Regions from separate parts of the Homo sapiens genome. Here all the other regions are linked to region 1. Evidence: fine-mapped expression QTL. A gene starts in region 1. Each other region holds a variant in brackets. All regions are shown on one strand. Distances are between the middles of the regions. Region 1 holds the start of ATP11A (ATPase phospholipid transporting 11A). Region 2 overlaps ATP11A (ATPase phospholipid transporting 11A). Region 3 overlaps ATP11A (ATPase phospholipid transporting 11A).

Region 1 (8,178 bases):
AGTTGAACACTGATGTTCACATTATACACCATTCGGTAATAAATAAAAGAAGCAGATATGTATGCATGCATATAAATAGCTGGACTTTCTAGAAGGTTTAACACACTCTAATATAGCACTGCTTCAAGTTCTCGGGAAGCAAAAATGTTTATTTTTCTCTTAGAAAAAAACTTATAACAGTTTGTGTTGAAAGTAATTATCTACTGTCAGCAAGGAAATCCTTCAGATCCTTCAATGTTTTCTATCTTAGAATGTTAAGAAGCAAGAATGGTAAGGTAGAAACAAGCAGAAGCTCTGACAGGCAAAAGAACAAAACTAACAAGGAATATCTGGGCTGAATCATTGAAAGAAGATTATAGGACCATAACAAGACTGAGTTCTTGACCCACAGAACTCTGAAGAAAAATCAAATGCCCTACATAGAGGCATGGAAGGGAAGAGGGAGGGAAGCATCCTGCCCACGCCGGGATGCTCAGCCTTACAGAGATCAAGGGCTGTTTTACCACAGCGTGTAAAGCTTTCTGAATCCTACCTGAGCTCCACACCATGCTCAGTGTCAGGGTGCCCGGTTTACCTCTCCTGTGACCCACGACGCCAGCAGGCCGGGACCCACAGGTAGCTGAGCAGCAGCACTGGCAGCCCATAGGTTTGCTCTCTCCCCAGCCAACCCTACCCAGGGACTCAGCTATGTTAACAGCCAGGCATGACAAACGGACTGAGAGCTTCCCCATTCTTGGCTCTCCACCCAGATTACCTCATTCAACCCTCACAATAGCTATGAAATGAGTACTGCTCTTACCCTCAGAGGAGAAAACTGAGGCAGAAGGAATTAAGCCACTTGCCCAAGGCCACATGGCTAAGAAGGGCAGGGAGGCTCCCACTCAGCATTCAGGCCACTGCCCAGAGAGTATCTAAGAAAAGTATCTAAGCTACCCGCTGAGGCTGCCCTGGTTCCTCTCGGAACTTAAACTACCTGAATCGGTGTTGCTCACCTTACAGCTCTGAAGAGGAAATGGAACTCGCTCTCCATCCATGCTGTTAAAAATACTCTTATTTATTTTGAGACGAGTTTCGCTCTTGTTGCCCAGGCTGGAGTGCAATGGTGCGATCTCAGCTCACTGCAACCTCCGCCTTCTGTGCTCAAGCAATTCTCCTGCCTCAGCCTTCTGAGTAGCTGGGATTACAGGCACCCGCCACCATGCCCGGCTAATTTTTGTATTTTTAGTAGAGACAGGGTTTCACCATGTTGGCCAGGTTGGTCTTGAACTCCTGATGTCAGGCGATCCACCCACCTCGGCCTCCCAAAGTGCTGGGATTACAGGCATGAGCCACCGCGCCTGGCCTAGAAGTGCTTTTAAAGTGTTACGTCATGGAGGTCAAACTACCTCATGGCACATGCACTACCCCATGGCTCATATGCTACCCCATAGCACATACACTACTCCACAACACATACGCCAGTCCACGGCACACACGCTACCCCATGGCTCCCACAGCACATACACCACCCCACGGCACACACACTCTCCACCCCGTCCCCTCTCCCCGTACCCACAGCTCATACATCACCCCAGAGAGCATACACCACCTCACGCCCCCGACAGCACATACATCACCCTAGGGAGCATACACTACCCCACAGCACATACACTACCCCACGGCACACACGCTTTTCCCCACGCCCCCCAGAGCACATACATCACCCCAGGGAGCATACACTACCCCATAAGCACAAGCACTCCTCATGGTATACAAACACGGCACCATTTACAAATACAAAGTATCTCTGCATGGCTCCGGTCCATCCAAACACCCAAACCACCAGTAACACACAGTGTGGAGTACCTGGCTACCCTGGCCTAACCTTCATCTGTTCTCTCACTCATTTGCCTCTGCTATCTCTCCAGGGTTAATCCACAATAAAATGCCTACAGCAATGTTTTCCAAGGACTTCTTTATCTTTTAGCCACCCTCACACATCAGAAGGAGCTGGAAAGCTTTCTTTGTCCCAGGAATTCTGACTATGTGAACACCAAGAAGGAACAGGGTCTATTTATCTATCCTTTTTAATAAAGTAAGTCACATAAGGAAACCATGAGGAAATATGAGTATTCAATCCCAGACTCTTTTTTCTGTAGCAAAAGGAAATATAATTTAGTCCTACATAGTGGACGATAACGCAATTACAAGAAAACAGATCATGACTGTTTCTGGAAAAAGTCAAATTAGTTTAATACCATAGACATGAACTTAAAATGATAGAGATGAATGGCTCTGTGTGTAAATATGGGTGAGGTAGCCAGATGAATACACTGCAAAAAACACAGGTGGAATGAGAAAAACAGAAATAATATTATCCCACAACTCGTATTCCCGAGACGTTATCCAATAATGTATATGCTGGAAAAGTTCACTAAAGAATATTTACCGCTTAGATTAAAAGAAAATGTGATGCCATAAGCGTAATAATACAGCAAAGGGGAATTAAAAATGCAAGCTACGCAAACACTTATATAGATCTATATAACAGAAAACAGCTGAAGGCCTGGAGAAAGGGAGTCAAGCATCAAAATTGGACGTCTGTCTGTCCCCCTCCCAAGATGAAGGGGTCAGAAACCGGCTGGGAAGGGGGGATTCTCCAAAGGGTGAGCCGGGCTGGCCCATCCATCTCTCATTTCTATGGAAAGAGGCTGCACATTAGCCCCACAACGTGACCCTCCTTTTTAACACTGAGTGTTAGAAGGGAACGGAATGAACTGGGAACACCGCGGGCAAAGTGAGTGTTAGTCCCTTCCCTCTTCCATTTCGCTCGAAGGAAACAAAGCAGGAAAATAAGGTGTCTAGGGACCCACACTTCTGAGCGACACAACTGAGAACAGAAGCTTCCGCCCAATAAAGCATTTCTCTTACACTGCAGGTTACCTATAGTCACTGTGATTGGGTCTTCTATAACGTTACCACAGTGAAACACAGGTTTACCACTCACATTAGGATTTGAACTGGGGGCTCGAGCACCAGTGAGGGAGTAACACAAGGCTCCTGGAGCCAAGCCTTTCAAGATCTAGCATCGGAATCATCAGAATCACCAGGGGTGAGTTCTCTCCACTTAAGTAAGTCAGGCTGACCTTCCTAAGGCTTCCCCGAGATCAGGAAACGATGTAAGGTGCACTCAAGTCTCCTTGACTCTCCGAGGTTTTTGGTTAATAAATAAATCCGGGGGAAAGCATTGATCTGGCATCCCCCACTGAAAAGAAACCTATCTATCTTTGGCCAAGGTCTCCTATTTAAAGAAGGCTCATAAATATGAAAGGCTGCCTGAGGTAATTCCTATGCCGGGAAAGAACAAAGTTCCCATAATACTGCCCTCTCTAGTATCAAACCCGGTGCATGCGACTTCTCGAACCTGTGATTGACCAGTGACCGCCAGCCTCTATGGAACAATGAAGCCTCTTGTGCAAGACAGTGGCAGGAAACGCTGTGCTTGGGACAGTTTTCTTCCTCTCCTACACACACACACACACACACACACCCTTTTTTTTTTTTTTTTTTGATACAGAGTCTCGCTCTGTCACCCAGGTTGGAGTGCAGTGGCTCGATCTCGGCTCATTGCAACCACCGCCTCCCGGGTTCAAGCGATTCTCCTGCCTCAGCCTCCTGAGTAGCTGGGATCCCAGGCGCCTACCACCACGCCCGGCTAATTTTCGTATTTTTTAGCAGAGACGGGGTTTCACCATGTCGGTCCGGCTGGTCTCAAACTCCTGACCTCGTGATCCGCCCGCCTCGGCCTCCAAAAGTGCTGGGATTACAGGCGTGAGCCACCGCGCCCGGCCACACACCCCTTTTTACACCTAACGCCAGGGATTCCGGTTTCCCCTCCTCTGGTGTAAAACAAAATCAACTTTTCCCCTTCCGAGTCTTCCCTCCTGAGCTCTTCACTTGCTTATCACTGAAGGGGCAAATTCCAGAGGAACCCAAGAAGACCCCGGACTTCTGATCTAATTGGTTACTTTAAGGTAAAAAATAAAAAGATTCCAAACTCCGCTTCTGAATCCCCCAGGGGTGTTAAAGAACAAACACAATTGCTACCTTTTTCTGCAGAAGTGTAACGCTTCCTCCCAATCCCTTAATCTTACAGACACGGCTGCGCGGAAGCCGCATCTGAAGGTTCCTCCCCAGACCCGGGCCCCGGCGGGGTCGAAGTTGGCTCCCTCCGGGCGCCCGGTCCGCCGGGACAGCTCGAACCCCAGCCAGCCTCTCCGAGGGACCCCCAGGGCGCTGCGGGCGGGAAGGGGGCGCCAGGCGGCCGCGGCCAGGGAGCAGGTGGCCGCCCGGGGCTGGGGCCCCGCGCTGTGCCCACCTAGACCCCGTCGGAAGCCCCAGGGTGTCAACTCCGAGGCCCCTCCCCAGCATCCCGCTCGTCCCCGGGGGCGGTCCGAGTCCCAGACATCGGAGACCTCCCGGGACCCCGGGGCTGGACCGGCCACAGGGTCCGGGCTGCGGGGCCGGCCCGCGTCTGTCTGGTCCCCGGGTCCCCCAGCCCGCGCCGGGAGCACTCACGTATCTGTGCACGAGCGTCCGCACGAGGCTGCAGTCCATGGCTCCTCCGGCCGCTCCCGCTCCGCCGTTCAGCGCCCCCGCGCCCGGCTCGGCGCGCCCATGGGCTCCGGGGTACTAGTGCGGCCGCGCCCCCCGCTCCGGTCACGGCCTCGGCGCGCCGGGCGGTGCAGGGGGCGGCCGCGGCCCCTCCGCGCTCATGCCCGGCCCGGCCGGCGAATGCTGGGTCCGCGGCCCCGCGCGTCGGCAGCTGCTCCACTGGCGGCAAGGCTGCTGCTCGGGGCCGCGCGCGCGCGCTCTGGCGCCTTCTCTCTCCCCGTCGGTCCGCCCGCTCGGTTGGGCTCGGCTGGAGCACCCCGGCCGCGGCGGAGCCTGCGCTCTGCTCCTCCCGAGTCTCCTCCTCCCCTGCCCGCCGCCCTCTGGAGCCTCCGGGCCCCGCTGGCTCCTGCCCCTGCTCCGGGCGCGCACGTCACCGGCGCAAGTGAGCATGCGCCCCGCGGCCGCAGCCCCCGCCGGCCCCGCGCCCACACCCGCGCTCGCACCCGCGCGCCGGCCCTGCCCCCTCGCGCCTCCGCCCGGGCCCCAGACCCTGGGGGCAGAGGGCAGAGGGCAGAGGTCAGAGGCCGCGGGGAGGAACCCCCCTGTTGCTTCCGCCTCCCGGGGCGCAGGCGCTGGGCGCGGCGGGGAAGGGACTCGGCACTGGGGAAACCCGGAGTTTCAGCCAGGGTCCCAGGGCTTCCTTCCCGGGTTCCTGCCGGAAAACTTTTCTCCTCCGCCCGGAAGCCTCGATGGGGCAGTGAGATCGCGGGGCGAGGTGGGAGTGTGGGAGGGGGCCGCGGGCAGAGAGCGGGAGTCCGGCTGGGTGGGAGATCTCCTGAGCCGAAGCTGGGTCTCGCCCCAGCGTGGCGCCACCGACCCGCAGGCTTTTCCTGCTCTGCAGATGGAGAGACACAGGGACGCTCCTCAGGTGGCTGCCCTGGGCTGCCAGCCTGTCAGTGGGAGGGGAGGGTGCAGACAAGAGGCCCCTGTTTCCGAAACCCCTCTGTCCCCAAAGCTGCGACAGCAGAAGACACTTAGGCGGCCTGAGGGGTTGGTGAACCACAGAGGAGCTCAGCTTCGCCTGGTCTCCAGCTCCCGGTGGCGGTGGCGTGTCCTTAATGCTGCTGGCTTTGAACTGGACTGAGAACTATTTACCACACAAACACCACCATTTCAATCCCGGAGAATGCCTGTTTTCCCTAGGGTGACCTGGCCGGGGTAACAAACACTTGTTCTCTAATTCCACGGTCAGCCTTGACTTAATTGAGGTACTTGATTTCCAACTTCCTGTCTTGCTGCCACAGATAATCACTGATGAAACCAAACAGGCAACACCTTTTGGTGGCCTGTGGAGAGCGCTGCCCCGTCTGGGTCTTAGGAAGGCAATTGAATATGAATGTTCTCCCGAGTGCTTGTGGAAAAGAGATGGTGTTGGCCACTTTTTAGACGAAGAGAAATGAGTACTAGTGAACACTAATCATAGTGACTAAACAGTAAACGGCTCCCATTTGTTGTCGGCTAAAGCACTGATTCTTCATTTTCCATCCCAGCCTGTCCTGCTCTGGCCTGCCCTGTGCTCAGGAAGCTGGCGGTCCCCCTCAGTGGATCTTCACCCACAGGGACAACCTGCTGCAGACCGGGTAGGAGGGAGGCAGGGGCCTCTTCCCCTCTCCTTCCTGGCCTGGCCCCACACCCACCAGTGTTGGTTTCACTCTGTGGCTACGATTCTTCCTGGGTGCCCTTTCCATTGCACAACTCCTCTAGGCTCTACGAACAGAACTTCTCCCCGCCCCCAAGCCTCTTAGGGTGAGACATGTTGTCGGTCTGCCATTGTTGCTGGTCCCTAAATAGCAGCACCCTTTGAAGGATCCTTGAACCATGACCACACCGCAACAAAGAGTCCTTCATCAAACTCGCTTCCAAATCCCCTCCCAAGAACACCTTCAGTTTCCTGCAAGAACCCTGACTGCTGAAGCCGGATTTTGACTAAGCTTCTACCTTGTAAACCGTGACTGTGGGATTGGGGTCGAGGCGCAATCAGAGGTTGTATAAGGCACTAGATCAAGGCTGCCTGTCTGTCAGGAGTGTCTGCTTTATTCAGTAGTAAATGTGAATTGTTTTTCATTCTGTTGTGAATACTGTTGGTTGACAATGCAGCAGCCATGCCCTCTCTATCCTTGCTGGTTCAGGTATCCACTCTGTGTGGCTAAGGGTAAACTCTGTCTCTTGAGAAAATCTTGGTAACTCCATTTCTCTTTCCAACAATTGGCTTCAAACAAGCTCAAGTCAATGAGTCCCAACAGGAAGCCTGCTGGGGGTTGTCTGGCAAAGGTTTTCTCACTCCTACAGGAACATAAAGAGGAAATGCTCCTTTTTCCCTGGTGAATGTTGCATTCCCTGTCTGGATGCAATGCCTGGTGCTCCGCAGCCCTTTGCACTTATAAGAGAAGGTGGCCGGAAGAGCATCTTCACCCTGGGGTGGCCGCCTGGGAAGATGAGAAGAGCAGGAGTCCTTGGTGGCACAACCAGGCAATTCACCAAAATCCTGCTGCCCTCACCTGGAATTTCCTGCTATGAGAGACGTCTCCGTTTAAACCACATGAGCTGGATTTTCTGTTTCTAACACATGTCAGCATCTTCACGGTAAATCTAAGAAAAAAAAATCAGGGCTATTAAAAAACAAAGTCCAACTCACCCTGTGCTATGGTCTGAAGGTGTCCTCCCAAATTCACACGTGGAAACCTAATCCCAAATACCTGATACCTAATCCCAAATATTAAGAGGTGGGGGCCTTGGGAGGTGGTTAGGAATGGGATTAGTGCCCTTTAAAACTGAGGTTTTTGGGAGCCTGCTTGCCCTTTCTGCCATATGAAGATGCTTAGAAGAGGCCTTCTATGAAGCAGAGAACTTTTCTCAGATGCCAGATCTGCTGGGACCTTGATCTTGGATTTCTCAGCCTTCAGAACTGTGGGAAGCAAACTTCTGTGTGTATGAATAGCCATCTAAAGGATTTTGTTACAGCAGCCTGAGCAGACTAAGACACCCTGTGAGTCAGTTATTTTTGGCTGTGTCACGAGTGACCGCGAGTGCAGGAGCTGAAACGGCAGTGAGTGGGTTACCATTTCTCAGGACCCTGCGGAATTGGTGCGATGGTGCTTCTGCTCCACCTGTTGTTGGCTGGGATTGTCCTGCAGCTGCATTCTTCTGGGGGTCAGCTGGGGCTGGAAGCTTCCTGTGGTCTAGTCACACAGCTGGGGTCTCAGCTAGGGTGATAGAACACTGGGGGCAGGCCGGCCTTGCTGTCTCTCTCTGGCTTCTCATCATTCAGTGGTCTAGCCTGAGTTTTTTACATGGCAGCTCAGGAGGGTCAATGTGGACGCTATACAGCCTGTAAGGCCCGGGTTTGGAAGTCCAAGAATATGACTTCTACCATGTTCTACTGGTGAATATAAATTCCAAGGCCAGCCTAGATTCAAGGGATAAGAACGTAGATTTCACTCCTTGATGGGAGGATCCCATGTACAGACAGGGATCCTTATGAGGGATTATGAGAACTCCTAATCCTTATGAGGGATTATCATACAG
Region 2 (8,178 bases), 190 kb before region 1:
TGTCTGAGACGGTCTGTGGCAGGGACTGGGTGTGAATCATGCAGCAGGCCCACTGTGCGTGTCTGAGACGGTCTGTGGCAGGGACTGGGTGTGAATCAGTGACCGTGTCTCTGACCAACATGCTGAATTACAAATTGATAATTTATTAACCTGTGCAGCAACAAATAAGATTTTTCAAAACTCAACAAAGTGCTCAAAGTTGACATTACTTGCTTCAAAGTTAGTTTAAGGCAAGTAAATACTAACTACTGCGAGGTGGAAAATTGCATGAAGACCCTGCAACGTCATTCACTGAGGATCTTCTCATCCTTTTCTTTTTTATCTCGTGCCCCTTGTCTATTTCAAATCATCAGGCACATTCATTTAATAATTTCCCAAGCAATTTTTAAAAAGACGTTTGGGAGTGTGTAAAAGTTTAGTGACTTTCACACTAAAACTTGTTGTCAGAGGTACATGGTGACTATCTCCACACAGGCAGAGCTGGGACCCAACTTACTAAACCTTCACGTGAGAATCTTCTATTTTTAAGGCTGAAGGATGGCAATTAACAATGAAACATAGAAAGCAGATGAAATTGCAACAAATTGTAAAGAAAAAGTGTAGCAAATTATCGTGCCTTAAATGTGCTGTTCAACTAATCACTGCCACCAGAAATACCAAGAAAAGAAGAGGTGTGTGTAGAGAATAAAATCAAATCTGAAAATTCGCATTCATCAGAGATTGGAACATTCAGTCAAAACTCTCACCAGAATCTAAATGTAAAGTGGCCAAAATTTCATAAACTTAAAAATGAAAGCTTTAAAAACCTATTTTTAAAATTAGACAGTATGTTAAATAAATGAATAAAAGAGATATAAACAGCTATGAAAATACTTCAGTGCAAAGGCAATTTTAAGATTTCTAAAAAAATACATTACAAATAATTTGTTAACTGAACATACAGAGAATCTGCCCCCGCTACAGGTGTTACATTTATGCCCATATTGGGTTCCTAAAAAGGGCTGTAAAAACGCACACACCATTGTTTGCGGGGGCAGCGTGGGCAGGGCTGCCAAGCCAGGGCGGCCACACAAGGACCTCAGGGCAGGGTGGCCCTGGGGACGCCTGCGGCTGGCCCCTCGGGACAGAGTGGAGTCTTCCCCGTTCTGTCTGCTCAAGCCAGTTGCTCGCTACCCTCATCTTTGGTGTGATGTTTGTCACCTTATTTTATCCCAACCACTGTGTTCACTGTTCTTACCGCTGATTTACCCTCTACTTCAAATAAATATTTTATAGGTAAAAGATTATACAATCAAATGGTGAAATCTGAGCTTCCAAAAATACCTACTGTCGAGCACCTCGGAAACACCCTCTGGGTTTCACTTGCCGGAGCCCCGTTCCACAGCGTGGCGCGGGGCGGGCGTGAGGGCCGGCTCCTCCTCCAGCGTTGGTGGTGCTTTCCTGAAAGGCAGCAGTTTCAGCGTCTGAAGTCTGAATCTCACACTGAAATGTCTTCTTTAAGGACCATTAAGGCTATGTCAAATATTATTTCTAGAAATAGAAATGCCAGTACGGAGAACAACAGGGACTTCCTATCACAGCAGCCCTGGGGTTGCTAACCCACCCAGAGCAGCGCTGGACAGATCCTAAGACGAAGGAGAGCCCTGCGTGGGGACATGGGGACGAGGGTATGTGGGGACGGGACAAGGGGACGAGAGGACGTGGGGATGAGGAGACGAGGGGACGTGGGGACGAGGTGACAGGACAAGGGGACATGAGGACGAGGTGACGGGGCAAGGGGATGTGGGGACGAGGTGACGGGATGAGGGGACGTGGGGATGGGACGAGGGGACGTGGGGACGCAGAGCCCGGCGGGCGGAGCTGCAGTGCGGGAGGCGGGCAGAGGTGCGGTGCTGCCTGTTGGGATCCACCCGTGTCCTGTGTGCCACCCCCGTCAGCCCGAGACAGGTTCTGGTGCACGAACACCACCTTGGTGTTGACCCCTCCACGGGGACAGAGGATGTCTGCTCATCACAGCCAAGTATCTGTCTCCCGGCCCTCGCACCCGCGAAATCAACATTCTCCCGTAACAGTGGACTGACGGCTCCGTGCCCTGGCGAGTGGCTGATGGACATCCTGGCACTTCTGCGGCAGGGCTGGAAGCTGCCGGCGTGGCCTTGTCCTCCCACGTGGCACTGCCTTCTCCACGAGGCGGCCGGTGATGGGGAGACCGAAACTCAGCCAGCCCCAACACACAGGGCAGGCGGGCTTGGACGTAACCGCAGGGAAACCACTCCCAGATGAGCAGGGTACGGCGGTGCATCCGCAGGGATGATGGTATCCGAGTGACCCGGCCCTTCCCACAGCATCCGGATTGGAGGGTTGTTGAGTAAAGGACGCACCACCATGGCTCCACCTCACCCTATGGAGGGCATGGGTGGTGGCCGGGCAAGCAGGAAACAGCAGCATGTGGCATCCACATGTGGGCCACCATGGGTCCCTGGACGGCTCTTCTCTCCCAGTGACAGCAAAGGCCAATGATGGCAGGTGGGTGAAGACACAGGCCTGGGGGAATGGCCTCTGCATGACAGCGCGCAGGGTGGGCCAGCAGAATGTCCCTCCTGCGTTGAGCCGAATGCCCAGAGGCCACTGGTGTGGCTCAACAACCACAGTGCTGGGTCCAGGCGGCCAGGGTGCCATGCTCGAGGGCAAGGCCTGTGACCCCCCTCCTTGCCTGCTGGGGGCCAGGAAGAGGCACGTGCACAGTCTCCACAGGCTTAGGACCATCCATCACACGAGCATTCCCACACGGGACCTAGGGCAGCTGTGACTTGGGATGGAACTGCAGTGGTGATGGGAACCGCCGAGGATGGGTGGGGGCTCCGTGGACACCTTCTCCTTCCAGGCCGCGAGTGTCACCTGCTGAGAGTGGGAGCTGTACCAGGCGGCCGAGGGACAGGTGCTCTGGTAGCCTGGGCTCTGCAGAGAGGCAAGAGGGGTGAATTCTGAGTCGCGGTCCCGAGGCTGTGCGCACCCATTCTGCTGAGAGAACGAGACACATGGTCAGTCTCAGGGATACCCACGGGGCTGCCTGGGGTGACCTGAGCCACTCTGGGATGCACTCACTACCATCGCCTCCTGCAGGAACTGCTAGACTCAACTCAGGACACACCCTCGTCCTGAGGGCAGGCCGGGCGGGATCCACCCCACCAGAGAAGCCATATGGAGGCGAGGGGTCTCTGTCTAGGAATGAGGGCCTCTCCTTTTCAGTACCAACAGAGTGACCGTCCCCCTGTCCCACCATCCCAGGGAAGAACCCAGGGGCCCCAGGGATACAGGCCATGGACGGGAAACCTACGAGCTTCCTCCCTGTAGCTGGCTTCCTGTGCAGTGAGCTCGAACGCCATACCGGTACCCAGAGACCCTT[G/A]AACAAAAGGCGAACTCACTGCCCCAGGGAAGGCAGGCCCCACCCCACAGGGACCGGGTTGATTTAGTACTGGACGTGCCCAGCTTGCATCCCCTTGACATGTTGCCTAGGATGTCACCATACGGATGGGGCCTGCATGGCTTCTGACAGCCCACTGGGGCCCCGGATGTGCACGGGCCCTGTGGGTCTGACCAGCAAGGGGAGCGGCAGGAGGCCGGCAGCACGCATCTGTCTGATGAGGGGCCGTCCCCAGGTCAGCCCACTTTTAGACCAGGGGGCAGCGGCGGATGCTGGCAGGAGCAGATGTCTTCATGGCCTCCATGTCTGTTGGAGAGGCGACAAGCTATGTGCTCCGGCTGGCACACAGAAGACCTGCACTCACACCTGCCTGGGCCCCAGTTCCACACAAACCATGCAATAACCACGTTTGATTTCAAAGCACGGTCCTTCCTGATGGGCCTTTTAAGTGAAGCTGTGTCCCCCGAAAGACCAGGATCGTGAGCCTGTGTCTGACGATGCTGGGTCTGGTCAGGCTGTGTGCCGTGCGTGTGGGGTGAGTGTGCACACGTGTGTGTGCACAGCATGTTCCATGTGTGGTCAGCTTGCCCTCAGGCGTGTTACTTACCTGGGACAGCAAATGCATGTGTGTGTAAAGAGGGCTGCTCTTTCTCACCGTGAACCTTTGTTATCAAAGACAGCACAGCACAGCACAACTTTGGAGGAAAAACGGGTCTGACAGTCACAGCACACGGGCGGCGTCCAGCAGCCGCACAGTTACCTAGCGTGGAGCTAACTGCGCCTTGGCCGCCGTAGGAGGTCCTTCAGGAGGGGCCCATCGCTGCTCTGTGCGGCCTGGACTGGAGCCTTGTGCTTCACACCCCTCTGCAAGGCGAGGAAAGATACTGAGCGACGTGGGCCACACGGGGCCACCAGGAGTGCTCGGGCCTCTGCCTGCACCATCCGTGGGACCCCAGCAGGAAGAGGCTCGAAGCCCCTGTTGGAGTCTGCATGGGGTGTCATGGAGCTGCCAGGGCGAGGGCTTGGGGCGTCTTGGGAAAACACTGTCCCAGCAGGGCCGCTCCCATGAGGGGCCCGAGCCCAGAACTGAGACAGCGACAGGCTCAGGGACGGGCCATGCACCCGCGGGAGGCAGAGGGTCTGAGGTCCCTCGGCTGGAAGGTCTACCAGGCACCGCTGGAATCCTGAAGCCACACGTTCAGCCACACGCCCACTTCCACGGCAGACAGCGAGCTCCAGTAACCGCTCTACCAGGGCCCTGCGACGGACTTTCCTGAGTCCAGCGTGCTCACAGAACTCCACTGAGATCTTGTAGCCCAGCCTTATTCAAGGAATAAGGGAAGCACAGGAGCTGAAGAACTGCGGGCTTGGAATTGCACAATTGCACGTCTGAATGGGCAAACGCCCAGGTGAGGAGAAGTAGGAAACAGAGGATGAGGCTGCCACCCTTCCTGGGGACAGTGACGGAGAAGTGAACTGCATGCAGATACGCAGAGATGCCAGCACGGGCATATATGTGCAAATCGCACATATATAACATATACATCTGAGGCCTGTGATGCTTTTCTTTTCCGTAGGAACAGGTTAAAAGAAAGCCATCCACTGGAAGTAACATATGCCCCACGTGAGGACTAGTGACACGTTTATTCCTCCAAAGTTTTGCAGAACGCAGGTGGTCTCGGCGCCACGGCGTGTTCCCGTGTGCGCCGGGCATGTGCTGGCTGCAGGCGCTTTCTGTTCAAGTGTGGACGCCGGCCCTGTCTGTGGGGGTCATGCCGGGGCCCAAGGCCTCGCAGGGGGCAGGAGAAACTCCGTGCCACTGTCTCTACGCAGCCGGGCTCAGCTTCCGTACATGCTCAGAAGCAAATCAGCTCTCAACAAACTACATGAATCGTTAGAATGCTTATTTTTAGCTCAGAGTTGGCATGATTTAATCAGTTTCTTAAGGACCTCTTATGAGTCATTAAAATGTTCCTAATAATTTCATCCTAAATGTCTTCAAGTACAGAAATGGTGAGATGAAATTCTGCAATTTAATCTAACAAATTCTGATGACACTAAATTAGAAAACTGTTGATTCTGATTAATTGCTTGGACTTAAAAAAGGACCATTTTGTCAGTTAAAAATCCTGTTTAAAATATATAGAAGATGATGTTATTAAAGGGAAAAGAAGCCTTTTTCTGCTTTGGGCATTTTTCTAAGCTGCATTTGGTAAAACAGTAATACCAAGTATGCATTTTCAAAGCATCACTGATTTGGAGGCATGCGTGAAGGCGGTATTTGGTGCAGGAGCACACGGCTAAAAGACAGAACGCGACTTCAGGACGGCGTGCAGGCCCCTGCAATCTCGGCTCTTATCATGGACACCACCGCAGAAAAATGGCGTGTGAACGCCTCTACATTGCCCAGAAAGGCCAAGGTCGTCATTTTTAAAGCAAATTATTAATAGAAGGCTTTTTTGAAAAACAATGAGGTTTTCATTTAAAAAACAGTAAAAAGGGAATTTGGTCAAACATTTGACACCAAACACTTCCGTCCCCTCTTTGTCTCCAGTTGTGTGGCTCAGCCTGGCTCCCCTTTTCTGAAATGTGCATGGGTCCTGAGCAAACCGTGTTATCCTAGCTGCCCTCAGTCTTTCCAGCTGCAGAATGGGCACAGAAGTGGGTGCGTGAGGGAGGAGGCCTTGTGATCCACGCTCTACAGGCTGCAGAGGGAAGGGTGTGTGAGCTCAGAGCCTGGATGACCTGTGAATTGCAAACTCTCACACCTTCCTGCTTAGGAACCCCTCTGACACCTGTGTGAGGGGTCATGTGGCCAGCTCTCCGCTGTCAGCTGTGTCTGAACCCTCACACAGGTGGGTTCTGAGGCTGCACGGACGCTGAGGGAGAAACCCTGGTTAACTGTGACTGATGGAAAGCACAGCCCATGATCAGTCTGTGCATGAGAAGGTGTAAGTGGTGGCGGGACTTCCCGACGTGAGGCTGCTGTACCCAGCGCCTGGTGGACGCTGCGTCAGAGCACGTGGACTCAGGGCTCTGGTGATGGGCATGGCCCTGCTGCCCCGTGTCTACCATCCCAGGTGCGTGGAAGGCAGAGGAGCATCACCTTGTTCCATCAGAAACTCAGGCTGCTGGAAGTCTGAGAAAGCATAAAGATGGTTGACTGCTCGACAGAAAGGCACTGGCTCTTAGTCTTAGTCCCGAGGTCAGCGGCCACGCACACAGGGGTGTGTGAACAAGGTGTGAGGATTTAGGCAAAGCGGTCGGAAGACGGAAGGAAATGGGAAGGAAAGAGAAACAAGAGACAGAGCTGAGTTAGTCAGAGGCTCGCCACCACGTGCAAGTTCTTCTGGTCACTCTGGGCGGACACTGGTGCCCCCCACCGTGACCCGCCAGCCCCTCCCACCCCCTGCTTTATGCCTTCTGCAGGTCCCGCTGTGTAGCTGTTCATAAGCATTCCCGGGGCTCTTGTGGGACGCAGAGACCCACAGCAATACAGGGGCTTCTAAACAAAGGGTGGGACGGGGAGGGTCCTCACTGGCATTCCCAAAGTGCCCACCCATCCTGGAGATGAGTTGCAGAGCAGAGGGCCTGTGGTCAGACACATCCGGGGGCGTGGCCCTCGGCAGCCCCGACTCTGGAGGCTGCGTGCACAGTGCATGGAAGAGCCCAGACTCCTGCGGGGAGAGGCCCTCCTAACCCCCCGAGTTCAACTCCTGCCTGCTCAGGCATCTTTGACCAAGCACCTCTGCAGCCACATGCACCCAGGGGCCAGGTGGGGCTGAGACTCGTGCAAACCCCAAGCCACACCACTGTGGCCACAGCTAGGGGCCCAGCAGACACCCCCAAGCTGCACCTGCTCTCTCTCGGGGTCAGACCCCCAGCCCTGCTGTCTCTTCTGTGCCTGATGTCCTTGTTACATGTGTGTCTGCCACGTCCCCATGTATGGGATGTGGTTATGAACACGTGTCCCATGCACAGAGCCCTGTCATGAACACGTGTGCCCGCTGTGGAACTGCACAGCTAAAGAGCTCAGTAACCAAGGACCGTGCTTAGAGAAAACCACCACTGGACAGCTGCTTCTCGGGCCACAGGCAGGGCTGGGCAGTGAGTGGCTGCTTGGGGCCGGTGAGTTTCCCCTGAAGCACTGGGGGCCGCGGAGTCTCAGCCAGGGCCCCGGCTCCTGCTCCCACTGTCTCCCCTCCTGCACAGAGGCCCCTCAGTGGGACCTTCTTATAAGCAGCCAACTGGCACGTTCTGCTGCGTTTCTCCTGCCTGTGGCCCCCGAGTCAGTGGAGCTGTGTGTGGACATTTTCACTACATTGAGAGGCAGTCTCTTCACCACGAGTTTTGCTCGCTCTGATTTTACAAACTGTGGCAGGAGGCATGAAGGAGGGAGTGCCGGGAACTGGTGGCATCGGTTTCAACATTTCAAATCGGCACCAATGTCCCAAGAAAGCTCTCAAGCCAGGGTCCCATTCTGATTGTTGGAGGTGGGTGGTGGGTGAGGCTGTGCCCCCCAAGGGAGGGCAACCTGTCTTCCCTCCCAGCACAGCAGCACCGCTGGGAGCCAGCCCCCGGGTGTCTGAGCTACGTGAGTGAGTCAGGGCTGGGGCCCCGGCCCCCACTCACTCCCCGTCTTCCTCCCACCTGGGGAGCCTCACACCCTGCAGGAGCAGCCACTGCCAGGGGCCCCCACCCCTCATTTCCCCATTGGGCTTCAGCACTGCCCAGTCCAGGGCTCCACCTCAAGG
Region 3 (8,178 bases), 100 kb before region 1:
GTCTTAGAATATCAACTATACTTATTTTTTAAAAAAATTACTTAGTGGTTGCACTAGAGGCCACAATATACGCCCACTCTCACATAACCCGCACTGTGTGTGTGGCGCAGATTCCTCGCAACAGCATGCCCAGTTCCTTCTTGCCCCCCAGGGCACTGCTGTCATACATTTCATTCACCCCTGAGCAATCACCACTGAGTAAATGCTATTATCATTCTGAATAAAGTACTCTCTGTTAGACCAATTAAGAACACGAAAAGCAAGCTGGGTGCTGTGCCCTGTAATCCTAGCACTTCAGGAGGCTGAGGCAGTGGATCCCTTGAGCCCAGAAGTTCTAAACCCGTCTGGGCAACATGGTGAGATCACGTCTCTAAAAGAAATAAAAAACAACAAAAAAGCAAAATATTTAATTTTACTACCTTCACTTATTCCTTCTTGCTATGGTTTGAATGTGTCCCCTCCAAAATTCAGGTGTTGCCAATGTGACAACTAGTCACGGTCCCAGGAGGCGGGGCCTTCAAGAGTTCTGATTCCGCCATGCGGGCTCCTCCCTCATGAATGGGATTAGGTGCCTGTATAAAAGGGCTCGGCAGAGGGAGTTTGCCCCTTTGCCCTTTTGCCTTCTGCCACATAAGGACACAGCCTTCCCCCACTCCAGAGGATGCAGTGCTCAAGGAGCCATCTTGGAAGCAGAGATGGGGCCCTCACCAGACACCAAACCTGCCAGTGTCTTGATCTTGGACTTCCCAGACTCTAGAACTGTGGGGAAATCAATGTCTCTTCTCTATAAATTACCCAGTCTGTGGTATTCTGTTGTAACAGCACAAAAACTCACACTTTAGTGCTGTGTTCTTCTTTCCTAAGTAGACCTGAATTTCTGACCTATATAATTTTCCTTCTTTCTGAAGAACTTTTAACATTTCTTGCAAGGGAGGTCTACTGGCAATGAATTCGCTCAATTTTTGTTTGCCTGAAAAAGTCTTTATTTCTCCTTCACGAATGAAGGATAATTTTATGAGATACAGAATTCTGGGTTGCTGGCTTTTTCTTTCAACACTTTAAATATTTTACATTATTCTTTTCTTCCTTAGATGGTTTCTGGAAGAAAGTTTGATATAATTCTTACCCTTGTTTCTCAGCAGGTAAAATGTTCTTTTCCTGTGGCTTCTTTCAAGATTTTTTCTGAGTCTAATTTTCTGCAATTTAAATGTGATATGTCTAGGTGTACCCTTTTTAAAAAATTTATTCTGCTTTTGTATTTATCTCTGAGCTTCCTGGATCGGTAGTTTGGCATCTGCCATTAATTTTGGAAATAGCCACTTTTACTGGAGATATTTCTTCTCTCTTCTTTTGTTTTTTTCATTATGCATATATGGTTTACCTTTTTTTTTTTTTTTTTTTTTGAGATGGAGTTTTCACTCTGGCTGCCCAGGGTGGAGTGCAGTGGTGCTATCTTGGCTCACTGCAACCTCTGCCTCCCAGCTTCAAGGGATTCTTGTGCCTCAGCCTCCCAAGTAGCTGGGATTACAGGCACCTGCCACCACACCTGGCTAATTTTTTTAAAAAAAATTTTTATTTTTTGTATTTTCAGTACAGACGGGGTTTCACCATGTTGGCCAGTCTTGTCTCAAACTCCTGACCTCAGGTGATCTGCCCACCTTAGCCTCCCAAAGCGCCAGGATTACAGGCGTGACCACCGTGCCTGGCCTGCTTCACCTATTGTAGTTGTCCACAGTTCTGTTCTGTTTCTTCACTCTTTTTTCCTCTTTGCTCTTCAGTTTGGAAAGTTTCTATGGACATGTCTCAAGGTCACGGGTCCTTTGCACACCACGTCAGTCTCTGAGCAGCCTGTATTACAAATCCCCGATGTGGCTAGGGCAGGTGTATGATTCTATGGGCATGTCTCAAGGTCACGGGTCCTTTGACACCGCGTCAATCTCCGTACAGTCTGTATTATAAATCCCCAAAGTAGTTAGGACAGGTGTATGAGTTTCTTATGCTGCTATAACAAATTCCACTTTGTGACTTAAAACAATGCAAATTTATTACCTTACTGTTCTGGAGGTCAGAAGTTTGCAATGGGATTCACTGGGTTAAAATTAAAGTATCAGCAGGGCTGGTTCCTTCCTGGAGGCTCCAGGGAGAAACTTTTCTTGCCTTTTCTTGCTTCCTGCAGAGGCTGCCTACATCCTTTGGTCCCCTTCAACCTCTGAAGCCAGTCGTAGCTCGGACAGTCTGTTCTGCCTCCCTCTTCCACTTACAAGTGCCTCTGTGGTTACTTTTGGCCACATGAATAGTTCTATAATCACCTCCCTATTTTAATGTCAGCTGTTTGGCAATCTTGATTCCCTGGCCACAGACAGTGTCATAGTCAGAGGTTCTGGGGATCAGGATGTGGACATCTGTGGGAGGCCATCCTTCTGCCTGCCACACTAGGTTTTCTTCATGGGAATGCAACCAAATTGAGAACCAAAAGGCAAGAGCTCTGGATGGAAAAGTAGCCATACAAACTGAGACAGAGTAGAGAACACATGGCTAGCTCTTCATTTCTTTTGTTTCTCATTCAGAAAAAAAGCAAACAAAAACACCAGATTGCCAATAAAAGTATAGGCACTTTCTTCCTTTACAAAAACCACAATCTTAATTCACAATTTGCTAACCCCACCTCAAGATAATTTAGGTACTCTATCGAAATTCTGGAAATATTTACTCTTTAGCATACTATGAAACACATAGACTTCAGAGTCAGTCCCCATATTCGATCCTGACCCTGCCATTTAAAAACCATGTAAACTTCAGCAAATTATTTAATGATTCTGAGTTCTAGTTTTCTTGTGTATACAACTTGGCAAACATTACACATGTGATCGACCTTTTTAAATATTTGAGAAAGATATATTTTCTCTCAAATGGGCCACAATGAAAAAGTCAGTTACTCTCCATTAGCTTTTAAAAGGATACATTAAAGAAATACCTTAGCTCACCCATGTGAGGCCAGTCTTACTTTCCAGCATCCAAGCCAACAAATTTATTACAATTATACGTTTCCACAAATTTCTATAATACATCACTCAGTAACAAAGTCACATTAATGAAAAAAGAGTCTACTTAAAATTCCACCTTTCATTTACTGAAGTACTTTCAGATGAAAAGTACACGCTGTCCAGGATTCCTTCCAAAGGACCCTTGGAACTACAGTGAAGGTGCAGATGCAACAGGCTGGCCACAAGCTGGGAACTGTGACAGTGGAGACGAGCCACAGAGATTTACAATGCTCCTCTCTATGGTTTTGAAAGTTCCCATGTTACACGAGGAAGTTCTGGTAATATTTATGAGATAAAATATGATCTGCAATCCTTCCAAACATGCAGATCTACTTCCATCAGGCCTGGAAGGCTGTGCAAACTCATGGACTTGCCATAACTTATTTATTTATTTATTTTGAGATGAAGTCTCACTCTGTCGCCCAGGCTGGAGTGCAGTGGCGCCATCTCGGCTCACTGCAACCTCTGCCTCCCAGGTTCAAGCGATTCTCGTGCCTCAGCCTCCCGAGTAGCTGGGATTACAGGCAACCCCCCAAGATGCCCGGCTAATTTTTGTATTTTTAATAGAGACGGGATTTCACCATGTTGCCCAGGCTGATCTTGAACTCCTGACTTCAGGTGATCCACCTGCCTCAGCCTCCCAAAGTGCTGGAATTACAGGCGTGAGCCACCGCACCTGGCAGGGCCTTGCCATATTTGAATGTTACTGTACAGCTTTGGAATTTGAAACCACCTGCATGATTGCTTTATTCTTTTTTTCTTTTCTTTTCTTGAGACAGGGTCTTACTCTGTCTGTCACCCAGGCTGGAGTGCGTTGGCACAATCTCGGCTCACTGCAACCTCTGCCTCCCGGGTTCAAGCGATTTTCCTGCCTCAACCTCCCGAGTAGCTAGAAATACAGGCGCCCGCCACCACACGCAGTTAATTTTTTATTTTTTGGTAGAGACAGGATTTCACCATGTTGGCCAGGCTTGTCTAGAACTCCTGACCTCGTGATCCGCCCGCTTCGGCCTCCCAAAGTTCTGGGATTACAGGTGTGAGCCACTGCGCCTGGCCTCAATTGCTTTATTCTAATCAGGCACTGAGGGCTGCAGCCAAGCCCCATGATGCTGTGTAATCTCTATGTTTCACAGAGTAAGTTATTACTGCTGACCACTACTATTGTCAAAAGGAGGGTTATTAATTCCTGGTGATGTCTAACAAGAAAAGTGAAATCCCAGGGAACTCATTTAAAGGGTCGTGACTGCACTGACACAGCAGTACCATCGGGATACAATCAACTGAAATGAGCATTTTATTCCACACGTTAGAGTGGGAAGGCTGACAATGGTGGACAGTTATCCTTCGCTCATCGTTGTTGAATTGTAAAAATGTAAGTATTTGCCTGGGGACACAATGTAATGTAACACTGGGCCCTTCGACTGTGATACAATCAGTAGACGTCCTCAATCCTAGGAGCTCCTGGCGTGAAAGCCACAGCATAGAACCAAGTGGTTTTCCTCCTACAGGAAATCTGGGAAAACCGAGTGGTGCTTGGCACCTCTCTTCACCTCCAAAGACACCATGTGTTTTGCTGAATGACACGGGACAGTCATTCTTTTCGTTTCTCACTTGTACGACAGACGCCATAGCCAGAGTCCACAGCTGCCCTGGCTCTGATTTTGGCCCTGAGCTGGAACGCCTCACTAGTGTCTGAGCCTCAGGTTTCCGCTGCCTCCTGCCCCTTGGGGTAGCCAGTCTCTGTTTTGTGTTACTTGCCAGCAGTGTGGTGTGCAGACAGGGAAGAGCATGGCCTCACCTGGCCTGCCTCTGGCCTCTGGCTGCGAGACGAACC[C/T]GGGCACTGTCCCCTGCCAGCAGCCCAGGCGCCCGCAGGAGCACCTACAAGCTGTCTGAAGCCTCAACTAGTGTTCACCTGAACACAGCTCCAGCACCACAGGGCCCACCTGACAGTCCTGAAAAAGGCGGGGACGCCGGACACCCATCTGCTTGGGACAAGCAGCCACTCGCATGGAACTGAGGTCACTCTTTTGTTTATGACCGGGAGGCAGGGATGCAAAACACAGAAAATTATGCCAGGATGGTGGATTGCTGATGCCGGAAATTCGTGAGCACCCAGAGGGGCTGTTAAGAAACGTGCCCCTGGATGGGCGCGGCGACTCACGTCTGTAAACCCAGCACTTTGGGAGGCCGAGGCGGGTGAATCACCTGAGGTCAGGAGTACAAGACCAGCCTGGCCAACAATGGCAAAACCCCATCTTTGCTAAAAACATAAAAATTAACTAGGTGTGGTGGTGGGCACCTGTAGTTCCAGCTACTTGGGAGGCTGAGGCAGGAGAATCACTTAAACCCGGGCGGTGGAGGTTGCAGTGAGCCAGGATCGCACCATTGCACTCCAGCCTGGGCACAGAGAGAGACTCTGTCTCAAAAATGAAAAGAAAGGGCCCCTGGCTCTGCGGAAGGAAGTCCAAGCCCAGTGCCAGACTACAGGGGCTCTATCCTCTTCTGTGGCCTCAGGCACATGACTGAGCTCTAAGCCTCAGCTTCCTCATGGATACATTGGTAATAATCAGTATTGGTGGGCTCACAGGGTTGTTTTAGAGATTACATGATATAATAAACATGGAAATCATTTATACAAATAGAAGTCATGAAAACACTGGCTATACCTACGAATTGCAGAGGGAATTTTTTCTCCCCAATTACCAGAAGGATTCAACTTTCTTGAAGGCATGGAGGGACAGTATAGTCTAAGCCAACATTTAATTCTGTAGCCTCCTGTGGGCAAAGCTGGGAACCATGTGAATTCTGTGCCCCAAAGTACAAATCTGGAAAAGGAGGCATGCAGTGATCCATCCCTTTGTGGAGTTCAGGATTCCCCACGTGGGGGGTGCAAGCAGGCCTGGGGGAGCTCTGCACAGCACAGGAAGCAGGGAACGGGGCGTGCTGGGCTGTCATTTCAGGTTTTGACACTGCCCAAAGTCTCTCCCCCAAGAAGGAAACAAACTCTATCATCACCTATCACCAGTAACTGCACTTCCGTCAAACAGATGAGAAGTTAAAAATAACCCGACAGCATTTTCATCCTCTATTACGACTTCTTCCATGACAAAGGCTTTCATCCTTTGATTTCATAAAAGCAAACTTGCTGAGAACAAGCTTCTGTGGCACTTAAAAAGTCTTAACTACTAGCATTTCTTTTTTTTAGGTAGAAATCATTTCCTCCGCCACCCCAGGAAAACATAGATACATTATCACAAATGTATTCTCCAAAATCAGTCGTAAACTTAGGTCTTACAAATTAAACAGCATTTTTTTTTCACACATCCTGAGCTGTTAAATGAAAACAATTATGAGTCATCAATTCCAGGCTCGAGAATTCCACTTTGGTTTACCTGGATCAAGGTTACTGTCAGGCCAGCTACCTGCCTAGATTCCAGACTCCAGCCTTTCTGAGGGCCTTTCCTTCCTGAGTTCCATTAGCAAAAGAGGTATTGCCGGATGTAATTTTCCCTTGAAATTACACAACCTCATCCACTTGAAACTGAGACTAAGCTACTAATCCCACCTCTGTGAAGAGCGAAGATCTCAATGCATGGGCGGATTTGAGAGCCCCCTTCTGTCCTCAGAGGTTGAGATGAAAGGCGGCCAAGTGCTCTCCTGGCCCCGCCACACCCTCCACCTGCACGCAGACGGCGCTCCTGAGAGCCTGTTGACCCCGGTCTGTGCGTTCCTGAGTGAGGGCTTCCTGGTAGGAAGGAGACTTACGGCTTCTCAAAGGTCCTGGAAAGCAGCAATAAGCCCACAAAACCCATCCTGACAACCTGCAGGGCTCCCCGGATCAGAAACTGAAGAGACCTTGAGGGGCTCCAGTTCCACAGGGAGCAGCGGAGAGGAAGGGCCCAGCCGAGGGGGAGAGAGGGTAGCACAGAGCCAGGGAGCAGGGCCAGGCGGAGCGAAGCCACCGAGGCCACTGCCTGCAGTGACGTTCGAAACGGACAGTAGGAAAAGGACAAAACTTGAATGACACAGCAGAGGGGTCAGGAGTGGGAGGCAGAATTCGCCATGCTCTGTCATCTCCTCCAAAGCCGCCATGGGCAATGACAGAAGTGCAGCTTCCCGCCAGCCCCTGCCAGGGGTACCAGGACCCTCCTCCAATGCCTGGATCAAGCTCTGCCGCTGCTGCTGGTTTCTTCCCTGTGACCCCACACAGCACCCTCATCTGCAGGGAGAACCAGGCATGTGGGGCTGTCGGGCGAGCTCCGCCCCAGGAAGGGAGAAGCCAGCTCCCAGGGGGCAGGCTGGGTGATGCCTTCACGGCCCCCATCCGGCTCAAATGAGCCACACTGTGCAGGGGGCGCCGCGGTTCCACACGCCCATCACCCATATCCTGGAATCCTGCCCTACAAGTCCACAATGGCACCGTATGTGGACACCTGGGTGCTTCCTGCCTCTCTGTACCTCTGGGCTGCGCAGGCTGAGTTCTAAGCAGTATGTTTGGGATTTGTTTTGGGCTGGAGGGTGGGGGATGGGTGAAGTACATATAAGCTTGGAAACCATCTTCAGTGAGCTCCGCCTGAGACTGCGTCGACTTTGTAAGTATTACCACTGCAGAGACAATATTTTGGATGTGATTTCTCATCAGTACATTTCTCCTTCCATGAATCATGACTGGGAAACCACCCACAGGACTTATCTGGTTGGGACTTTGTTTTTCAGCATTTACATATCCTGTTTCTAGAGGTTAAAGCTATTAAAATTTTTTGCAATCCTGTAGTTACAAATTAATCCCATAAAAAAGGCTTTGAAAAGGTGACCTTTTCTGTTGTAAAATATTCTTTAAAAATGTGCAACTCTTCAAGAGCACATAAATAATTAAGAACCACAGGGGTCTACATGCCAGGATGCTTGAGTGTGAATTAAGTAAGTCTCCACAGGAGTCTACACATCAGGACACCCGGTGTGGATTAAGGAGGTCTATCGCAGGGGTCTACACATCAGGACACCCGGTGTGGATTAAGGAGGTCTATCGCAGGGGTCTACACATCAGGACACCCGGTGTGAATTAAGTAGGTCTCCACAGGAGTCTACATGTCAGAATACCCGGTGTGAATTAAGCAGGTCTCCACAGGGGTCT

Evidence for each region. PIP is the estimated chance that this variant, and not a neighbour inherited with it, causes the effect.
Region 2: its variant is the best candidate, but not a certain one, in a credible set for the expression of ATP11A in whole blood (TOPMed, PIP 0.88).
Region 3: its variant is the best candidate, but not a certain one, in a credible set for the expression of ATP11A in whole blood (TOPMed, PIP 0.64).

What each region holds. Positions count from the first base shown.
Region 1 is chr13:112,686,835-112,695,012 of GRCh38, reverse strand. ATP11A (ATPase phospholipid transporting 11A) reads right to left here and starts at 4,975. Exons shown (of 30, transcript NM_015205.3): 1 at 4,558-4,975. The coding sequence starts at 4,596. It overlaps LOC102725228 (a long non-coding RNA gene), which reads left to right and starts at 5,198. Exons shown (of 2, transcript NR_187633.1): 1 at 5,198-5,350; 2 at 6,144-8,178. RefSeq lists enhancers at 2,821-3,322, 5,621-6,138 and silencers at 4,183-4,422, 4,443-5,372.
Region 2 is chr13:112,876,656-112,884,833 of GRCh38, reverse strand. ATP11A (ATPase phospholipid transporting 11A) reads right to left here. Exons shown (of 30, transcript NM_015205.3): 29 at 6,531-6,617; 30 at 1-2,958. The coding sequence ends at 6,540. Among named protein-coding and RNA genes, the nearest start is that of MCF2L-AS1, 88 kb to the left of the region's middle. RefSeq lists cis regulatory regions at 1,700, 3,016, 4,241, 5,497 and enhancers at 1,628-1,772, 2,944-3,088, 4,169-4,313, 5,425-5,569. The variant G/A (reference allele first, on the strand shown) is at 3,407.
Region 3 is chr13:112,790,510-112,798,687 of GRCh38, reverse strand. All of the region lies in intron 2 of ATP11A (ATPase phospholipid transporting 11A), which reads right to left. It overlaps LOC124903252 (a long non-coding RNA gene), which reads right to left. Exons shown (of 2, transcript XR_007063947.1): 2 at 3,001-8,178. Among named protein-coding and RNA genes, the nearest start is that of ATP11A-AS1, 40 kb to the right of the region's middle. RefSeq lists an enhancer at 7,887-8,178. The variant C/T (reference allele first, on the strand shown) is at 4,879.